Regions from separate parts of the Homo sapiens genome. Here all the other regions are reported to be linked to region 1. The links are microRNA targets in miRTarBase. Many come from high-throughput screens and were not tested one by one. Region 1 holds a microRNA gene; each other region holds the end of a gene's coding sequence.

Region 1 (3,000 bases):
TCCATTCCCTTGCACACATTCCTGTTCTATTACTAATAAAATGCAATCATTACACAGTTGAAGAATAGCAAAATGAGTTCATGCCCAAAGGTAAAATAATTATATGCTCCAATTAATGAAAGACAAGTCACTTTATAATGACATCTGCCTCACCCTAAACACCATCTGTCCCCTTCCATGTCTCTTTTCTTCCAGTCCAAATTATCCAAGGAACATCTACAACTTTGTCTGATGGAGGCAACACTGCTAAGACTAAGTGTGAATATGCCACACACCAGGGAAAGTAGTAAGTTGTATAGTTATCTTCTAATTGGGGCCTAATATCCCTACCCCACAACAATACAACTTACTACCTCACCCTGGCATGAGCAGAATCCTCTAATAAGGGCAGCAGGCAAAAGGCCATTTTACATGGTGACAGACTCTTTTAAAGATCTTTTGCTAGATTAAGGGTACCAAGGCATCTACCCTACTTCACTGCTTTAAAAAATATTGTGCAGGCTTTGGTACAATCATTTTCCAACTCAAGTGCGAAAGGAGACAGGTGTAGGGAGGCAGAAGAATGTTCTGAGGAAATATGGGTGGGGGAGACATATGATATCACATGAACCAACTGATAGAATCACAAAATGGCTACTGACCATTGTTAAGAAGATCAGAGGGAATAGGAAACATACGGCAGTCATACCACTAAGCCCAGAGAGCTACCTTCATGAACAGCACACTATCCAAGACAATGTTCCTAGACTTTTAGATTCCATGGACCAATAAAATTTAATTAAAAAAAGAACAAAAAGTAGAGACTAATGTAGGGGTTGCCAACTTTTAGTTTAGCCATGTAAGAAAAAACATCCAATCAACATCATTTAATAAAAATATTTTGGTACCACAGAATTAGGAATATGATCTCTAAATACAAAAACAGCCTTTTAAATGGAATAAATTCAGCTTTATGAAAAAGGCATTAAAGCTCCTTGATTTTGTTCGTTTCCACAGAGGACTGGCATTTGAGAACCACTGTCATCAGTTATTCTCATGAAGTGCCACACCATGGTGGTCATCAAAGGACCAGCCACTTCAAAGATGTACATGAACATGCTGTTTCAGAGGACAGAGTTGCAGTCAGGAAATGAACAAGACACATGACCTCATTACCCATGCCAGAACAAAGTAGATAATAACCAGAACAAGAACCTGAACAGAGCCAGTCGGAGAAGAAGTGTACCACCGTGGGAAAGACAGTAGACTGTATAGTTATCTCCAAGATGGGGTATGACCCTAAAACTATACAATCTACTACCTCATCCCACAGAGCACCAGTGTCCATCTTCAGCCTATGTGGGCCAGCTACTCGGAACTATCAGGATAAAGAAGCAACCAATTGATTAGTAAGAAGGGAGAAAGGGAAGGAGAGTTACCTGAGAGATTCTGTTCAGTGGAGTCATTTGACTTAGATGCAGTACACTGCAAAAAGAAGGGATAGACCAATGTGGGACTTTGCAAGCACCTAAGATAGAGGTCAACTGTAATAGTCACCATCCTCCACCCAGACCATCTAGGAGTTCAGTGATCTAATGGAGAATGCTTTGGCCATGTGACCAAAGGAAGGTGATCATTTCACTGTGCAAATATATGACCAATTTCTCTATACATACTCAGGTTCAAGAATTGTTTGGGGCTGAGGGGGAAATAAATATGGAAGGAAAGGATAATAAAAACCCCTTAGGGATGGGCACGATCATGATCATTCTAGCAAGAATTTCTTGGTTTCATCTATGTATTTTTTCCCTTCATGGGGCTTATTTTTTATTTTGTCCACTCTAGTCTTTTCAGTCACAGGCTAGGTTCACTTATTTTTCATCCTATATCAAGTTTGAAACAATGTGTGTATTAGGTAAAAAGTTCTATATAAAGATATTTGTTAGATCAACCTTGTTATTTTAACTGAACACTTCACTACCCTTATTTTTAATCTACCTGATTCCTTAACTGCTGAGTAGGGTATACTAAAGTCTTTCACTCTCAAGTCTTATTTCTTTGTATTTCTATCAGTTTTTCCCCCTTTTATATCAAGTGATACACTGTAATGTATAATTCTATCAACATTTACTCAGACATTTAAAAGATCTCTGTCTGAGGTCCCAGAAGTTTCAGAAAAAAGTAGGTAACTTCCTTCTAAACCAAAATTGTATTAGTGATTTTATACATGTGAGCCCTAGAAAAAATGACATGTGGTGATGGGGTTCAGAGTACAAACATTTTCTCTGATCTGACACCTAGGCTGATCTTACTCAAATGACGGAATGGGGTCATCTCGGTAAGATTCCCCACACTGGCAGTTCACCGACAGAAATGGAAGTGGGCGACTAAGAGCATGGACTTAGATAAGGTTTTTCTCCTTGTCTTGATGCTGTCCTTGGCGGTAGAGACTATGCAGTGTGACTGTTGAGTGAGAAGCCATTCTGCTTCTGGCTCCAGTTTTTCCCTTGACACTTGAGAAATCTCCCCTCTAGGTTTGAATTCTTTCCCCTAAAAACCAGGTCAATGTATGGTGAATTTGAAATAAAAAATTTCCCAGGTTCAACGTGAACGTTCTAGGATTCTTCAGTGATTCCTGGTGCCATGTGTATGCCAAAACCACATTACGGCAGACACAGTCAAAGATGAATCCTCCCAGCCCTTGGGAATCACCTGTGCACTCTGATCCCTGTTCTCCTTATCTTCTTTGCCTTTATCAGTTATCTTTGTTTCTTCCTCAGCCAGTTGTTTCCTGCGCTTCTCTCGCCTTTCTTCCAGCTCCTCATCCCTCAGGAATTCCAGGTGATTGACAATGGACACTTTAACCACTGTTTCAAAGAGGCAAAAATCAAAGGCTGCTCTGGTGGGGTCAGGGAGGAAGCCAAGAGGCAGAGCTTGTAGCCACAGAGAACCAGGGAAACAACTCTCCACACGTTTGCCCTAGCTCTGGAAGGCTCACTATTGCCCTGATAACCAAGCTGC
Region 2 (4,560 bases), not on the chromosome of region 1:
GTTCTCTCAAGTCAGGTCTGAGGGAACCCATCGGCTTCTGTAATAATCGTATTGCCTATATACTTGAATTAAAAATATATGGTGGCTCAAATGTGCCCGCGTGTATGGCAGACGGTGCGGGGTGGAGGCCATCACGCCCATACACGTGTGCACACACAGCGGGGGGCTGTGTCCACGGACTGCGCACACAGTATATATTAACATATATATTGCTCAAGTATATATGCTATTTACAGTATATATCTCTATCAACATAAAACACAGGTATTTATAGGTGTGTACAATAGATACGTCCTAGGAAGTCTAGGGGACACACGACTCTGGGGTCACGGGGCCGACACACTTGCACGGCGGGAAGGAAAGGCAGAGAAGTGACACCGTCAGGGGGAAATGACAGAAAGGAAAATCAAGGCCTTGCAAGGTCAGAAAGGGGACTCAGGGCTTCCACCACAGCCCTGCCCCACTTGGCCACCTCCCTTTTGGGACCAGCAATGTACGAGTTTTGTTCTGGAGTTTTGTGCAAAACAAATTAACTTAAAAAAAAAAAAGTTGGTTTCTAATTAATGTGGTGGGCCTTCAACACCCACAAGGATTTTAAAGAACAGCTTCTCCTTCTGGTGGGCTTCCAGGGCTCAGAGGGTCCCACTCAGAGAAGCAGGGAACACTTTGTCAGGACTAGAAAATATCCCTTCTCCTCTGACCACAGAAACAGCACAACTCGGCTGGGTGTGGTGGCTCACGCCTGTAATCCCGGCATTTTGGGAGGCCGAGGCAGGCGGATCACTTAACTCAGGAGTTCAAGACCAGCCTGAGCAATGTTACGAAATCCCGTCTCTATTAAAAAATACAATAACTAGCCAGACGTGGTGGTGCGTGCCTGTAATCCCAGCTACTTGGGAGGCCGAGGCAGGAGAATCACTTGAACCTGGGAGGAGGAGGGTGTAGTGAGCCAAGATCGTGCCACTGCATTCCAGCCTAGGCAACAGAGCCAGACTCCCATCTCAAAAAAAAAAAAAAAAACCCCCGCCAGAGCCAAAACCACAGGGGCCCTTGGTCCTGCTCATTCAGAAAACCACCCCACTGGAAGGGACACCACGGCTAACCCCATGCCTCCTGGACATGACCACTCAGCTGGCCTGCCACCTGGCTGTCCACCTCCCCATGGCCCTCGGGTTCCCTCACCCCCTCCGGTGCTCAGATAGAACTACAGCTGGTTGGTGGGAGTTCCCATGTGGGGTGCCAGCGGCTCCAGCGTCTTGTAACAGATCTCTGCTCCTAGCTTCCCTTCAGAAGAGAGGGCCCAGGCTCCTGTGACATCTCCCGATTCCCACTGCCTGTCCCTGGAGCCACAGAGCACCAGCTTAGTGACACAGAGCCTCCAGGCTCCCTTGACAGAACTCAAACAGGTCCTATCCCTGCCAAACAGAAACTACCGCCAAGAGCACCCTGGGTGCAAATACATTAAATAAAAAACTAAAACAAAGTATGGTTTTCTCTATTAAGGCTCAGTTAAGCTGCCTCCTGGGTCAAGTACTCATGAATGCCACAGCCCCCAGCCAAGGGGCGGGTGGGCAGGCAGGTGACTTGGGGGCAGAGGAGGGAGGAGGACGGCGGGGAGTCCTATGCTGGTCTAGTTGTCTGTTGGGGAGGTGGGACACCACCTAAGAAACCTCAGGCCTGGAAAGCCAGGGATGTCCCTACTGGGGGAAGCTGAGGCTCTACCTGCCCAAGTCGGGTCCAGGGAGAGCCGAGGGGACAGGAGCTGGTGCTCCAGGCTGGTGGGTCTCCTGGGACCCTCCCTCCTCCCCCAAGGACTGAGTGCTTGTGGGGGAGGGTCTGGACAGGGCCCTCTTGGCAGTCTTGCTGGGAGTCGGGCCCAGGCCCTGTGGTTGGCAGGCGAGGTACAGGGGGAGTCTGGGTCCTTCCCAGCTCGGGGATCCCACCTGGGTTCCTGTCTGAGCCTCACCAGCCCCGATGACCTGAGGGGGCCACGCTGGCCTCCACTCCGAGGGAACCAGCCCTGAGCTGATGGAAGCAGAGACCAGTGACCACAGTACTCACCCCCAAACCCTCCAGGGCACCCCAAACTCGGCCCCACCCCGCCAGCCCCAGCCCTGCAAGGTGACATGACAGCTGGCACACCGGTGTCTCGCAGGAGGGACCGGCTTCCCTCGGCATCTGCCCCTGGCCGTGGGTGAGGCCGGATGAGAAGGCGGATCAGCTCACAAGCTCCCTGGGCCTCCGAAAGCATTTTCCGGGGTGGGGGAGGTAGGGAAGAGAAAGGTCGTTCTCTGGAGGGTCGGGGGGCTCCGGGAAGGCAGGAGGGCATGGAGAGGCCTTGGCGTGGGCCCCTGCCCTGGAGGGATTGGCAATCGAGGGAGTCTCCCACAGAGGCCCCTTCCTCAGGGTCCCCAGGCTGATTTTCCAGTCTGTAGAGAAATACTGCAAGATCAATCTTCAGGGTTAGGGCTGGGCCCGGGCGGCGGCAGGGAGGAGCAGAAGAGACCCTTCTAGTGCTTCTCTGCTTGGCTGACCTTCAGGGCACTGATGACACCATTGATGTTCTCTTCGGGGACCTGTGCAGGGGTAGAGGAGGCAGATGCCTGCCCGTGAGCCCAGGAACCTGCTTCCCCACCCCGGCCCTGCCCTGGAGGGGTCTGGCGCTGGACACTCACAAGTGCATGATCAAACTTGAAAGTACTGATGTAGTAGGCTGGGATGTCTGCAGCAGCCAAGGGCTCTGAGATCTGGGCCACGATGCCACACTCATCTAGAACAGGAGAGACCGTCCTTAGCCTCTGTGTAACCTGGCTACCCTTGCCTGTGTGGCTCTTCAGCCTCTACCCTCTGTGGGCAATGCCTACCCTGCACCCACCATCCTCCTAGAGAATTCCCATCTGCTATCCCTTTTATTTTTTTTGAGATGGAGTCTCGCTCCATCGCCCAGGCTGGAGTGCACTGGCGTGAGCTCACTTCACTACAACCTCCACCTCCTGAGTTCAAGCAATCCTCGTGCCTCAGCCTCCCAAATAGCTGGGATTATAGGCGTGTACCACCATGCCCAGCTAATTTTTTTGTATTTTTAGTAGAGATGGGGTTTCACCATGTTGGCCAGGCTGGTATCGAACTGCTGTACTCAAATGATCCACCCACCTCCACATCCCAAAGTGCTGGAATTACAGGCGTGAGCCACCGTGCCTGGCCTCCCACTGGCCATCCCTCTTGAAGGCTTAACCCAGATGTCCCCCAACCAGGAGCCTTCTCTGGTCGCTGGCCAGTGAAATAGTTTGGCTTTGTGTTCCTGCCCAAATCCTCCAATTGTAATCTCAAGTATTGGAGGTGGGGCCTGGTGCAAGATGACTGGATTATGAGGGTGGATTCCTCATGAATGGTTTAGCCTCATCCTCTTGGTACTGTTCTCGTGACAGTAAGTCCTCACGAGATCTGGCTATTTAAAAGTGTGGCACCTTGGCTGGGAGTGGTGGCTCACGCCTGTAATCCCAGCACTTTGGGAGGCCGAGGCGGGTGGATCACTTGAGGTCAGGAGTTCGAGACCAGCCTGGCCAACATGGTGAAACCCCATCTCTACTAAAACTACAAGAATTAGCCGGGCGTGGTGGCACGTGCCTATAGTCCCAGCTACTTGGGAGGCTGAACCCAGGAGGCGAAGACTGCGCCATTGCACTTCAGCCTGGGCAACAGAGCAAGATCCGGTCTCAAAAAAAAAAAAAACAAAAAACAAAAAGAAAAAAAAAATGCTATCCACCAAAGACGTTGTCTGGACAACTGTGGAAACAGAGGAAAGACTAAGTCTTAGGGAATGACTGAAAATTTTCTCCTGTGGAATCCTGTCATTGTGGTTATATAGGAGAAAGTGTTTCTTCTTTTTTTTTTCTTTTTTTGAGGTGGACTCTCGCTCTGTCGCCCAGGCTGGAGTGCAGTGGCGCCATCTCGGCTTGCTGCAAGCTCCGCCTCCCAGGTTCATGCCATTCTCCTGCCTCAGCCTCCCAAGTAGCTGGGACTACAGGCGCCTGCCACCACGACCGGCTAATTTTTTGTATTTTTAGTAGAGACAGGGTTTTGCTGTGTTAGCCAGGATGATCTCGATCTCCTGACCTTGTGATCCTCCTGCCTCGGCCTCCCAAAGTGCTGGGATTACAGGCGTAAGCCACCTTGCCCGGTGCTTCTTCCCAGGATGGAAAAGGCGAGGCATTTAGGAGTAAAGTGTTGGGTGTCAGACTCTCTGGGAGATATGTGACAATTACATGTATTTACGTGAAGAAAACATGTTAAAAAATTGCCAGCAGTTATTATCTTTGAGCTGTGGAAATAAGGAGTGATTTTTTTTCTCTTTAATTTTTATCACAGCCCCAATTTATTCTTTTTTAAATTAAATTTATTATTATTTTTTGAGACAGAGTCTTGCTCTGTTGCCCAGGCAGGAGTGCAATGGAGCGATCTTGGCTCATCGCAACCTCTGCTTCCTGGGTTCAAGCGATTCTCCCATCTCAGCCTCCTGAGTAGCTGGGATTACAGGCGCACGCCACTGTGCCTGGCCAA
Region 3 (4,560 bases), not on the chromosome of region 1:
TCAATGGATTGGACATCTTGGTAATTGACCATCCAGGAGGTACTTGAGGGAGAGATGAAGATAAAAAGGAGATAGATTGTGTTTTGTTTGTCTCTCCACTCAGATGTAAACTCTGTGGGGGGAGGGGCTTGTCTATTTTATTTGCTGTTGCAGCCCCAGTGCCTTCAATACTTTGAATGAGGATATATGGACGCATACAAAATATGGTGGGACTTTACATGTTTCAAGGTAAAAAGCCTCCTGGCAGTAAACAGTGTTGTTAATATATCTCTGGGCCTTATATCTGAGCTAACACAAATAAGACTAATTGGCCTTTGACCCCTGGATTCTTTATTTCTTTCGTTTAATAATTTAAGGCCATTCTTGACTGGATCCTCTTTAGTTACCACAAATCCTTTTAAAACAAAACAGGAAATGCAAAACAAAACAGTTCTCTTAATAATGATTTAAACAGCAGGATTGTTCTTGAATCTTAGCATAACCAAGGCTTTTTACACAGAGATGTTACACTGATTAAATGATGGTTCTACATGGATTGCTAAGGTACCAGTTTATCAGCTTTGTCCATAATAAACTTGTGGATTCCAATTAATCCCATCTTCTATTTGTGAAGTAGGTTTTTAGTCTCAGTGAATGACCTTGCAAATGATGCCAATAAATTTTCTCATATTCTAACAAACTGCCTGTTTGGTTTATCAGGGTCCTTTTAAATTCCTTTTCTTTAAAATTAAAGTGTTTGTTAAAGACACCTGCTCAGTCTGGGGCTAGCTGCAAAACCACTAAGCATGCATCACGTAATTTGTTGATGAAAAGTTTTTAAGTATCACCAGCAAAGAATCTTTGTCATACCAGCTCAGTTCCTTCCTTCAAAGAACAGATTATTCTTAAGTAATTTCGATAATATTATAGAGCAATAAGAGCTCTCATTGTTTAGATGCATTTGTTGAAGCTATGTCAATGGTAGTTATCCTGTTGCACTGAATTACTTCTTTAACAACATACTTTTTTCTTGCTTTGAACAGACTGTACAGTGGAAGCCTGGTGCACGGACTATGCCAGCAACTGCTAGCATCGACCTCTGTAGAAAGTCTCCTGAGCATATGTCCTGAGGCTAAGCAACTTTATGAATATCTATTCAATGCCACAAGGTCATATGCCCCCGCTGAAATATTCCTACCAAAAGGTAGATCAAATTCAAAAAAAAAAAGGCAGAAGAAACAGAATACCAGCTGTTCTAAGAACAGAGGGAGAACCACTGCACACACCAAGTGTTGGTATGAGGGAAACAACCGGTTTGGGTTGTTAATGGTTGAAAACTTAGAGGAACATAGTGAGGCCTCCAACATTGAATAAAACTCAGTTTGCATCAAACTAGATGTATTTAATATAATCCTTACTTAAAATTCTTCCGTTACCACCCTTGAAACAATTAGCTTTTTCTTTAGGACTGACCTGTTAGGGGATAAACATCACAATAATCTGAATTCCAAGTTATTTTGTATTTTGTTTTTAATAAATACAACCTGATTTAAGAAGCTTCTGTATTTCTAAATATGTTTGAAACCATGTTTATACTTCTCATGTTCCATTTCAGCAAGTTAATGGTAATATAGTCTATATGCTTTAAATTGCAGCAATTTAGCCAGCTACATTCTCAGAAAGTAGAAGTCTCACTCAATTATTGCCTTTAAGTAGCAGCTGGTTATCATTTCAAAAAGTTTTAAAAACAGTTTCCTCTTTGTACTTTAGTATGAAGTCTGGCCAATGAAAGTTAGAAGTGAGGATGCCAGACAGAAAACTGTCTCTACTAAAAGTAAGTACTTAGTCAATGAGACCATGACAGGATTGAAGAGCACTTTAGGTGCACTCCAGGTTTTAAAGGAGAAGTTGAAACTAATGGCTTCAGCCAAATAAGAAACAGCATCCTGAGCTGTTAGACCTGGAGAAGGAGGAAACAGTGAGAAGTGAAAATATCAAGAGATATATGCAGCAATACCAGACCCTATGCCCTCTTTATACTACAGATTTTGACCCATTAATGAGATGTGAAAGTATTTAATGAGTCATACCCAGCATTTTTTAATGAAAAAGTTAGAATGGAAAATATCAGATATACATATCATGTATTAGGTGATTGTGTAAAATATATTCCTTACTGTGGACTGTAGGGAAGAAGTTTAAAAGGTACTGCTCTGGAAAATACTGCCAAATAGAGGCTGCTAAAATTAGAAATACCCAGAGTTCTGAAAGTGCCGGCCAGTTCCAAATGAGAACTTGAAAATAAAGAGAACCAAGTAGAATAAATGCATTGGGCAAGATCTGAAAATATACTCAACCTTCATTTTACTTGTATTCATACAAATTGTGTTCTTCCTTCTGTACTCTCCCACTGGTATATTCCATCAGGAATAGCCCTAAAGGTAGCTTTAAAGCTGCCATTTTGAGCAGGCCTATGTACAGTTCCTAATATCTGATAAACAATTTTCTTTACTTTACTAGAATTACCATACTCTTAGAGAAATAAGCCCAGCATCAGCCAGTGTCAAACACACACCTGCCAAGTGTTGACTTTTACAAAAGGCACAATAAATCATTTGCCCCTAGAGTATTCAACCCTAACAATTACTTTGTTAAATAAGAGTTCTTGAAATAAGGAAATTTTTATTATTTTCAGAGGATTGCATGGGAGTTCCTCAGTAAGGTTATTTTTATAACCTTACTAACAACCATCTCCAAAGAGATGGTTACTCCCAGAAGAATCAAGAAAAGAGTAGTCAAGTACATCTATTTTTGAGAAGAAATGTTACTGGAAAATAAGGTATCTAATGAGGACTATAAACATGTGAGACCGGTGCTGGATGTAGTGGCTCACACCTGTAATCCCAGCACTTTGGAAGGCCAAGGCAGGCAGATCATTTGAGGTCAGGAGTTCAAGACCAGCCTGGCCGACATGGTGAAACCCCGTCTCTACTAAAAATACAAAAATTAGCCGGGCATCATGGAGGGCACCTGTAGTCCCAGCTACTCAGGAGGCTGAGGCGGGAGAACTGCTTGAACCCGGGAGACAGAGGCTGCAGTGAACCGAGATGGCGCCACTGTACTCCAGCCTGGGTGACAGAGCAAGACTGTCTCAAAAAAAAAAAAAAAAAGAAAAAAGAAAAACCATGTAAGACCGTTGTTATATCAAATCCTCCCTACCTTGATTCCTGGAGTTTGAAGCTAATCTGGAGACTATATTAATATAACTGTCCCATTTCCTGGGTTATCATCAACACTGCTTCTTAAAACCACTGAATTACATCTACCATGTTTTTCTTTCATTAAAAGTGTCCTCCTCCAGCAGAAGTAATAAGTCAGGTTCCTTTCTCTAACCATGGCACTCAGGACCATTCCACTGAAATTATCCAGCCTTGCAGTAAAGCAGTGACAGTCTAATAATGTCCCTTTAAGTATACTACTCTGGTGTATATCTTCTCCTACATGTATTAGATGAGAGGTCACAGGCACTTCACAGGAGTATGTAAGGTGGTTCACCGAAAAATGATGACATAGCACCTGAACCCCCTGCAGAAGACATTCTTGTTCAGGCTGCTTGGGAGACAACACACAATGAAATGACAAGAGATTATTTTATTAAGTTGGTGCAAAAGTAACTGTGGTTTTTACCCTTACATAAAGCAGTCTGTCAAGTGCAAAATGGCAAAGTGCAGACTGAATACTACAATAAGGAAACAGCGGTCACCAGGATGAGAAGAGGTTAAATCACAAGAAGATTCTCAGACCTGGCTTTTGACCTGGCTTTAAAGAATAGGAATTTTAAAATTGAGATCAGATATACATTAGGAACACCTGTGTAGAAGCAGAATATTGTACATCCCATATTCCCTTTCCAAAATCTAGTTTCCTATGTTTGCAATCAAGTGATTAGGTCCTGCTCTTTCTAATTCAGTTCTAACAAATGAAATCTCATCTTAGGCTTTGGAAACTGTCTTCAATTAGCAGTTCAAGTAACAAAAGGAACTCTGGGCAGCTAAGATGAATAAATTTTAGAGAGAAAGCTGCAGAGACAGGAAAACTTTTACTATAACCTAATCATGTTCTGTATTTAGTGGTGATAAAATTATACTGGAAGTCTATTTTTTAAAAGCACTTTTTGAGACACCTGGACCTTGAAAGTTTAATATGCATCCTGTAAATATAATCACAGGTCTTTCATGCCATTTGATCATGGGGAAAGAATTCAAATTAACCTTTTGACATCTGAATTTGAATTTCAGAAGATAAAGACCATAGCTAAAAAGCCCTTAGAATTATCTTTTTCTCCTTTGTGCACAAAAGGAAATAAATCAATGACTATGCCTCAGTTGCCCTACTTGCAAAATAAGGATTATAACAGTCCAAATTATTGTGTAAAAGATACAATAACAAGTATATTTAAGTTACTTAGCACAGTGCCTGATACTAAAAGTGTGTTATAAGTGATAGCCATTGTTATATCCGCACATGAAAAGCCAGGGCAAAGCAAGGAATGTGGGAAGAAGTGAGTGAGTGTTAAGCAGT
Region 4 (4,560 bases), not on the chromosome of region 1:
GAAAATTGAGGTGAATCAATTGCCTGAGGGGAGGTCACAGACCTGAGAATAAAGGTGGAGCCTCTGAGGTTCTACTGATTTCTCCTTACCTTTTCTTCTTTTTTCTTAAGGGGATGAGAACAATCCCCTTAAGAAAATCCCCTTTGTTATCTGAAGGATCTCAGCTAGGGTGGGATGTGGCTGGGATTGCATGGGTGCATCTGTTCTTAGGCCTGAACTTTGGCATGGGACAGCCCCAGTTTTAACTTTTGTCCTGCCACTTTTTCGCTATGCCTAAATAACAGAACCTCTCGGCCTCCATTTCTTTGTCTGTAAGATGAGGGCAACATGAGTGCCCGTCTCAAATGTGCAATAAATGGTGGCTATGATTATGATAAATACATACTTAAATCAGGGGATGTCACTCTTCACTTTGATTCTGGTTCCAGAATCGGGATGAACATCGAGGTGGGGAACATTTCTTATACAGGAGCCATCATCTCCTGGTCGTCCTCGGAGCCCTGCCTGGAGGACTATTACCATATTATGTACAGGCCCAACTGGAACAGCATCTTCTCTGGCTATCTTCGCTACAGCTTCCACCACGAGGAGAAGGTGCCTCGAACGATCAGCTCCGTGGTGCTGGAACATCTTGCCCCTTCCACTCTCTACTTCCTGTGCATCAGCTGTAAGAAGGCTGCCTTCCCTTACAGGCACTACTGCACCATGTTCCACACCCTGGATAAGAGTCCGCTGGCTCCTGGAAGCTCCCTGGTAGACCCCCAGATCTCCCTTTGGGTGCTGATGGCCATTCTGCTGGCCTGCTTCACAGCCGTCTTGGCCTTCATCTGCCTCCAGTTCTGGTGTGTCCGTTGCCATGAGCCGCGATGGTCTTACAGGGCTGGCCACATGGAGGAGGCCAATGGGTTGGTGAGATGGCCAGAGGAGGCCCCGGATCTTGGTCAGAGGGAGGAAGACCTGCAGGGGCTCCCCCTGGTGGAAATGCCACGCAAGAACTCCAGAGATGGAGCTGAACTGGATCCCGAAGCCAACCAGGATGCCCCTGATGCGGGTGCCTTACAGAGGGGGGGTGGTGACCCACCCGCTATACTGCCTCATTGTGGGGAATGAGAGTGGGGAGGAGAGCGCCCGCATCATGTAGCCTAAAGCTTTCCACACAGTAGGTCGTTTGTACAAATGTGTCTATAGACTACCCATTTCTCTCCCATCAAACGTCACTGCTATTGTAGGTCACCTGGGTTGGATGAATGCCCCATGACAAAGCTTCTCAAGCTGGAAAATGTATCCCCCAGGGTATGCCAAGGCACAAACGAGGCATCTCAGCAGCAGCGTCCACTCGGAGGACACAGTTAAGAATTGAAAGCATTGTTTTAACATTAAAACAAACATGGATATGTTATAAAGTAGAAAGCAAAAATTTGCATGACAAATAAAACACAGCACTTGAAGGAAACACTTGAGTTACAAGTAGGCTCTCAGAGGTACACTTTTGGGCAAAGGTAGATGTCCAGTTTCCTCTGCCCTTGAGGGGATTATTTGGAAATAATTTGGGATTATTTGGAAATAATTTGTGAGAACCCTTGCTCTGGAGTGTTTTCCAACTTTTAGGCAATCACATACCACCGCTCTCTATTTTTTAAAACCATGGATTATCTTCACTATTATTAATAATACTTTCCTTTAAATTGACTCATTTTTTAAGCGTAAACTTATTTTCAAAGACAGCCTTATATTACTCCATAAGTGAAAAACCAGCACCCTCCTGCTGCAAACAGAAGGGAAGAGACATAAGAATAAACATCATGAAAACAAGATAATATTAAATAATCTGACTTAGCTTCTATTGCCTGCCAGTGATTCTGAGCTTAATGCCTGCTTGCTTGTCTTTGATAAAAAGGGAGATCCAGTGTTGGAGAGGTAATAAAGACATATTAGCACCAATATTTGTCTTTCTCCTTGATATAGCATAAGGTTTGAAAGAGAATCGAAAAGGGAAGTGCTGTTTTTACTTTGCGAGTCAGTGTTAGTTAAATGCCATGTCTGTGAACCACCTCAAATGCTGTCAGTCAGCTTCCCTTGATTTGAGAAAATTGTCTTGACCAGACTAGGCAGGCTGTTCTGGAGAAGACGCCTGTACTCTCCAAGCATCATCCAAGACCTTCCCAGTACCCTCTTATATCTATAGAGCACAAAATCCCAGAATCACAGGACGACACTGCAGTGAATCAACTAAGAAACAGCAGGAGCTGAGAAGCCAAGACGAGAAGCCCCACATCCCTATTCCCTTGCCTACCTCATGCATTCCCTGCTCGGCACCCAGACTTTTGCCCCCATTCCTGCTACTTGTGAACAAATAAAGATTCATATACTCACAGCTGTTTCTGCCTGGATCTTATTGCTGCCTTTTTCCTTTCTCTTTAGAGATAAGAGTCTCGCCCTGTCAGCCAGGCTGGAGCGAAGTGGTACAATCATGCTCACTGCAGCATAACACTCCTGGGCTCAAAGGATCCCCCTGCCTTAGCCTTCCAAGTAGCTACTGGTGCATGCCGCCATGTCTAGCTAATTTTTTATTTTTTATTTTTTTGGTAGAGACAGGGTCTCGCTATGTTGTCCAGGCTGTTCTCAAATTCCTGGCCTGAAGTATCCACTGGTCTCGGTCTCCTGAAGTGCTGGGATTAAAGGTATGAGCCACTGTGCCTGACCTCATTGCTGCCTTTATCTCTGCACCTTCTTACTCTTCTAATTAAGAGACACTTTTCTATTTGCTTTTTCTCACCAACCCTCTTCTAGGCAGGGTAGGGCAGGACTACTTACCTTGGATCCATAGAGGTAATAAGGCTGGACGTTGGCAGGTTTGTCTCGTTGTGGTTCTTGGGTGAAAGGAATGGCAGTCCGCACAAAACTAGTAGAAGCATAGGGATGGGAAAGAGTTAATATGGTCCTAATATTATTCTCCATGGGACACAGATAACAGGAGTGCTTCCTGGCCAGGTGAAGGTTTGCACTGGTACAAGTGCACTGTTTGTTAGGTGGTTGACTATAAAGGTACTAAACTCTTCTGACATCTTCCCATTCAACTGCCGTCTCCTTTCTATAGATGGGAAAAATTCAGTCTAGATTCCTGGGCTCAACCAGGGGCTTGTGGCTGCTCCGAATGACACTAGGCAAGAAACTAAGAGTGGACTTTCTCTAGGGCTCCACTCCTCTACCTCCAGTTTGGTTTCTCAAGAGCAGAGTTCAGCAAACTCTTTCTCAAAAGAGCCAGGCAGCAAATATTTTTAGCTTTGGAAGCCAGACGGTCTCTGTTGCAAGTACTCAACTCTGCTGTTGCAGCATGGAAGCACCCACAGACAATAATAAACAAATGAGCATGATCGAGTTCCAATAAAACTTTATCAAATACAAATCATTTTCACTTGTCACCAAATATTATTCTTCTTTGGATTTTTTCCCCTCAACCACCCAAAAGTGTGAATACTATTCTCAGCTCATGGGCTTTACAAAAACAGTCAGCAACTAGATGTGGCCTGTGAGCCACAGTTTGCTGCTCCCTGCTCAAGAGTGTTAAAGCTCCTAAATCTTTATAGAACTGGAAATCTATCTCACTTAGTGTGTGGATCCAGGTGCATTTGTGGATATCTCCCATACCCTTTCATTCATTCAACACACACTCATTCAATACTGGCCTTGAGCCAAGGCTTGGAGATACCTAGAAGATCTGCAGATGAATACATTTTTTTTGCATCCTTACATACTTATTTTGTATGTGAATATATATGCCTTACTCTTCCACTGGGTTATGAAACTTTGTGGGGATAAAGAAATTAGGTCTTGTCTCTACCTCAGTGCCTGGCCCCGGGCCGTGTGCACCTTGCAGGAGGCAAGTTCCACTTTGTCATGCGTATGTGTGCTCTGCAAATGTATGCTGTTTTGCAGGCATGCTTTCAGATACGTGGATATCCTTACAAACATACAATCTGATCATGTCATCTCCTTTCCTCAAACTCTTTCAGGGTTAATAAAAATGCACGATCCTGCCCTGGCCTGTAGAGTACTGCACAATCTGTTCCTGTGTTATCTTTCACAGCACCATTTCCCACCCGACTAGTTTTACCCTCATCAACTTCTTGGAGAAACCCTTAGAAACTTGTCTGGAATATTCTTCTCCTGCCTTTTTGCCTTATTTATTCCTAGTCATCCTTTGCATCTTAACTCCAGCATTACTTCCTCAAAGAGGAAGCCTCCGTTGAGGTTTGCATGACTTTTTGGACTGGAATAGGTGGTACTGTTACCACTGTCATGGCCCTGTGGGCTTTCCTTCATCTCCTTATTCACTGTTTGTAATGGTACATTTGTCATGTGATTGATCACCCACATCCTCCTCTAGTCTGAAGACTCAAGAGGCAGGAAGGTATCTGCTCACCATGGCATGCCCCATGTTTTACTGGAGCAGGAAAACACCCCAATGGGCAACTTCAGAGTAGCAGTAGAAAGAGCTCTTCAATGAAAGAAGACCTAATTGTTAACCACATTCAACTGTCAACCAGCTCTATGACCTTA
Region 5 (4,560 bases), not on the chromosome of region 1:
TCAAGTGAGTCCGGCTGAATCCACAGCCCAAGCCCAGCCCATTGCTCTGCCTGTTAAAGAGAAGGGAGCAGTTGTGTTAAACAGCAGCAGCACAGAGATACTGGCAGTAAAAGAATACATGGAAAGTATGTTCAGATAGGAGAGCCTTTCTCCTATAGAGAAAGGAGCATGAAAAGACTGCATTAAAAGGAAAGGTTTAGGCCGGGTGCGGTGGCTCACACCTGTAATCCCAGCACTTTGGGAGGCCGAGGCAAGTGGATCACTTGAGGTCAGGAGTTCGAGACCAGCCTGGCCAACATGGTGAAACCTGCCTCTATTAAAAGTACAAAAATTAGTCAGGTGTGATGACATGCACCTGTAATCCCAGCTACTCGGGAGGCTGAGGCAAGGGAATCACTTGAGCCTGGGAGGCGGAGGTTGCAGTGAGTGAAACCCTGTCTCTTTTTCTTTTTCTTTCGAGACGGAGTCTTGCATTGTCACCCAGGCTGGGGTGCAGTGGTGTGATCTCAGTTCACTGCAACCTCTGCCTCTCGGGTTCAAACAATTCTCTGCCTCAGCCTCCCAAGTAGCTGGGATTACAGGTGCCTGCCACCACGCCTGGCTAATTTTTTGTATTTTTAGTAGAGACAGGGTTTCACCATCTTGGCCAGGCTGGTCTTGAACTCCTGACCTCGTAATCCACCTGCCTTGGCGCCCCAAAGTGCTGGGATTACAGGCGTGAGCCACTGTGCCTGGCCGAGCCTTTCTATACTATTAGTTTTTTTTTCTAGTTTGGTATATTTTCAGGGCTTTAGGAAGGCTGGGAGGTGGTGATGTGGTAGTGGTTTTTTTCTTTTTTGAGATGGAGTCTTCGCTATGTTGCCCAGGCTGGAGTGCAGTGGTACGGCCTTGGCCCACTGCACCCTCTGCCTCCTGGGCGCAAGTGATTCTTCCGCCTCAGCCTCCCAAGTAGCTGGGATTACAGGTATGTGCCACCATGCCCGGCTCATTTTTGTACTTTTAGTAGAGATGGGGTTTTGCCATGTTGGCCAGGCTGGTCTCGACCTCCTGACCCCAAGTGATCTGCCCGCCTCAGCCTCACAAAGTGCTTGGATTCCAGACGTGAGCCATTGCACCCGGCCAGATGTGATAATATTTATACTTGTCATGACTTCTAGCATAACTCTCACCATGGTTCTCTGTCCCATTCTGCAGTTGTTTTTTGAGGACAGCATTGATGATGCCAAGTACTGTGGGCGGCTCTATGGCTTAGGCACAGGAGTGGCCCAGAAGCAGAATGAGGATGTGGACTCTGCCCAGGAGAAGATGAGCATCCTGGCGATTATCAACAACATGCAGCAGTGATGGCGCCAGGCTCTGCAGGGTGGGCCTGATCCCAGAGTGGTGCTTACTGTGCTGACTGTGTACTTATCTTCCCCAAGAGAAAATGCTTCTTTTGAGCACACTGTACCTACCATCTGCATTGAGCAGAAAGACTTTTGTTTTACTGAAGACAAAAGATGTTTTTATTTTAGACCCAGAAGAGAGGAGTTTGCTCTGAATTTGTAAATAAGTCTTCCCCATTCCTCATACTCGAGCCTCTCCTCTCTGGTTGCCTCCTGCCACCAGCATCCATGGCTCATTTGACACCTTTTTAAATATCAGGACAAGTCTGAAACAAAGTAGTAAAATGTATATAACTCTTACCTGTTGTCATTCTTTTTCTTTTAAATTTGTTGCTAATCTCTGATAATGAAGATTCTTACTCTGATTCTCAGCTGAGCTGTGAGGGCTTCCAGGGAAAATGGAACAAAATGGTGTTCTTAGGTAATGGGTTGTAGATACTGAGTCTTCCTTTCCTTTTCTGACCCTTCTCGAGGACATTTGCTTTCCTCACACTTTTGTAGTCTCTCTTTACATATTACTATATGGAAATGAATTGCTCTGTGCTGAAATTTGAAGACCAGATAATGAAACTGAAAAGCAAACAATTTTACTGAATCTGTCTACCCTTCATTCATGAGAACTCCAGAATGAGTGTTGACCACTGAAGCATCTTTTAAGTCTGTGTTCCATTGTGCCATTCAGGTTTGCTGTCACATATGCATCATCTGAAATCATTTGAAATTTTTGTACAATAAAATATCCTGGATTTGATCCTGAAGGAAACTAGTAAGATCAGATTTTTGGGTCATGTCTGTTGTATTTTCAGTAATGTGATTTCAGATGGTCATCTGGATTCTCCCACTTCTCTACTCCATTATTTCTCTACTTTTCCTTCCAGCAAACCTGAAACGTGAGGGAGATGGATTAATGTGAGTAACAGGAATGTGTCTTTAAAAAGCTAGAGTGGTTACATTTAATCAGGCAGTAAGATAATTTGGGTTCTTGAGTTGTTTTGGAGTAATATCCCACAACTGGGGTAGGAAGCTCAGGACTTTTTTCTTTAAAGCTAGTCATTTCAAAAGCATATTGTATTTTTTTGAATGACTACAGTATGGACAATTTCAAAAACCAAAACCCACTTTGGATTGGTGGAAGTAAAAACTGGTAACTCACTCAAGTGAATGAATGGTCTTGCATTTTAAAAGCTTATGGGAAACTCAATTTGAAATGATTAGAAAATGTCAAGTATTATAAGCTGGTATTTAAGATGCTTGTAAATACTATTTATGTTTTTAATTTTGTAAAATAAAGATTTCTTTTTAACCACTGGCATTAAGGTTTGGTCTTTCATAGCTATGGATTGCTGGCTCTGGAAGATGGTCATTTGCCATCAGTGAAATAAGAGCATCTTGCCTCCATTGTCCCCAAGTTGGCTTACATACAAAATATCACTTGGGGGGTGGGTTCGGGAATAAAAAAAATACATATCACTTGGTAGGAAGCTTTTCACGAGCACCTGTGTAAATGGAATTGTCTCTTCATACTCAAGATTGTTGGGTCTTAATATTATAGAATTAAACCAGTCTAATATTTCCTGGGGTCACTCCACTATATATGGTGGATTAGCTTGTTAATTAGTGGGATTCTTTTAAACAACCTGAACTTCAGATATCCTAGAGTTGGCTCAAGACTTTGTTTCCAGCCATTTCTGTTGACACAAAATATGTGGGGTTTTAAGAAGTCTGGTACAGGGGCAGATATGGAATTGTGACTGGGAAGTTGACAAAACAAGAGATTTATCACTGTAATTTCTGGTGAAACAGCAGTCAGTGGTTCTCAACCAGGGTGCCCTGGCATGCTGGTGACTGTGAGCGCTATGCAGATACCCTTCCAAATTTGAATTAAAGCAGGACATTTAATATTTTCTACAATTAAGGACTTACTTACATGTCAGGAGAAATGCTCAAAGGGTTGAGGAACTCAGTGTTGAGTGTGGGGTTTGGTCATCATTGCATGTGAGAGTTAAGAGCTTAGAGTAGTGCTTTAGCAAGAAAGAGCACAAGTCTTGGAACTGGCAAGAACTTTGTGTGTATGAGTGCATATAGGTCTATGTGAATGCTCATCCTCAAAAAGTGATGGCACTGTAGGGTAACCAAGAGAATCACTTAAGGTGTAATTCTTTCGAGGTTTAGACAGGGTCTCACTCGGTCATCCAGGCTGGAGTGCAGTGGCATGATCTTAGCTCACTGCACCCTCACCCTCCTGAGTAGCTGGGACTACAGGTGCATGCTACCATGTCCAGCTAATGTTTATATTTTTTTAGTAGAGATGGGGTTTCACCATGTTGGGCAAGCTGGTCTCAAACTCCTGACCTCAAGTGATTTGCCTGCCTTGGCCTCCCAAAGTGCTTACAGTCATGAGCCACCGTGCTGGCTTGTAATTCTTTTTTTTTTTTTTTTTTTTTTTTTTTTTGAGACAGAGTCTTGTTCTGTCGCCCAGGCTGGAGTGCAGTGGCATGATCTTGGCTCACTGCAACCTCCGCCTCCCAGGTTCAAGCAATTCTCCTGCCTCAGCCTCCCAAATAGCTGGTGCCAGAAACAGTCAGTTCCTCTTCAAACTTCTTTGTTTCTTTTAGCGACTAATGTCATTTCACATTGCTAGAAGATACATTCTTGTTCTCTAAACAAGCCTTTCCATCTTTGCCATGCCTAAACATGCCCAAACATGCCTTAACGGACAATCCCTCCCTCCCCTCCTTTCTTTTCTTTACAAGTTACGCATTTAGGCTGGGCACAGTGGCTCACGCTTGTAATCCCAGCACTTTGGGAGGCCAAGGCGGGTGGATCATGAGGTCAGGAGATTGAGACCATCCTGGCTAACACAGTGAAACCCTGTCTCTACTAAAAACACAAAAAATTAGCCGGGCATGGTGGTGGGCACCTGTAGTCCCAGCTACTTGGGAGGCTGAGGCAGGAGAATGGCGTGAACCCAGGAGGTGGAGGTTGCAGTGACCCAAGATCGCGCCACTGCACTCCAGCCTGGGCAACAGAGACAGTCTCAAAAAAAACAAAAAACAAAACAAAAAAAAAACAACAAGTTACGCATTTAAATGTTTCAGTTTACTCTGTTTGGAAAAGTTTTACCACTCCTACCCCTTCTTCCCCATCTACCCTATTTGGAAAAATTTCAAGTTTT

Evidence for each region. Region 1 holds the annotated microRNA hsa-let-7f-5p (UGAGGUAGUAGAUUGUAUAGUU, at 1,283-1,304, opposite strand). A microRNA usually pairs through its seed, bases 2 to 8, with sites in the 3' UTR of a target mRNA and lowers its output. Matches are read on the target gene's strand: a 7mer-m8 pairs with bases 2 to 8, a 7mer-A1 pairs with bases 2 to 7 and ends in A, and an 8mer does both.
Region 2: miRTarBase lists CASTOR2 as a target of hsa-let-7f-5p. Seed matches in the 3' UTR shown: 7mer-m8 at 2,266-2,272.
Region 3: the mRNA of ASTE1 is a reported target of hsa-let-7f-5p. The part of its 3' UTR that is shown has no 7-base or 8-base seed match.
Region 4: miRTarBase lists FNDC9 as a target of hsa-let-7f-5p. Seed matches in the 3' UTR shown: 8mer at 2,290-2,297.
Region 5: miRTarBase lists CNOT8 as a target of hsa-let-7f-5p. The part of its 3' UTR that is shown has no 7-base or 8-base seed match.

What each region holds. Positions count from the first base shown.
Region 1 is chrX:53,555,964-53,558,963 of GRCh38, forward strand. MIRLET7F2 (microRNA let-7f-2) reads right to left here and starts at 1,311; the gene lies at 1,229-1,311. It overlaps HUWE1 (HECT, UBA and WWE domain containing E3 ubiquitin protein ligase 1), which reads right to left. Exons shown (of 84, transcript NM_031407.7): 59 at 2,692-2,846; 60 at 1,419-1,464. MIR98 (microRNA 98) reads right to left here and starts at 378; the gene lies at 260-378.
Region 2 is chr7:75,022,650-75,027,209 of GRCh38, reverse strand. CASTOR2 (cytosolic arginine sensor for mTORC1 subunit 2) reads right to left here. Exons shown (of 9, transcript NM_001145064.3): 8 at 2,676-2,770; 9 at 1-2,576. The coding sequence ends at 2,511. It also overlaps a transcript of RCC1L not described here. Among named protein-coding and RNA genes, the nearest start is that of RCC1L, 49 kb to the left of the region's middle.
Region 3 is chr3:131,010,850-131,015,409 of GRCh38, reverse strand. ASTE1 (asteroid structure-specific endonuclease 1) reads left to right here. Exons shown (of 6, transcript NM_014065.4): 6 at 1,023-1,535. The coding sequence ends at 1,353. It also overlaps a transcript of ATP2C1 not described here. Among named protein-coding and RNA genes, the nearest start is that of ASTE1, 14 kb to the left of the region's middle.
Region 4 is chr5:157,339,412-157,343,971 of GRCh38, reverse strand. It overlaps FNDC9 (fibronectin type III domain containing 9), which reads left to right. Exons shown (of 2, transcript NM_001001343.4): 2 at 429-2,374. The coding sequence starts at 436. The coding sequence ends at 1,110. It overlaps CYFIP2 (cytoplasmic FMR1 interacting protein 2), which reads right to left. Exons shown (of 31, transcript NM_001037333.3): 23 at 2,815-2,902. Among named protein-coding and RNA genes, the nearest start is that of FNDC9, 4.0 kb to the left of the region's middle.
Region 5 is chr5:154,874,096-154,878,655 of GRCh38, forward strand. CNOT8 (CCR4-NOT transcription complex subunit 8) reads left to right here. Exons shown (of 7, transcript NM_001301073.2): 7 at 1,195-2,697. The coding sequence ends at 1,344. Among named protein-coding and RNA genes, the nearest start is that of CNOT8, 18 kb to the left of the region's middle.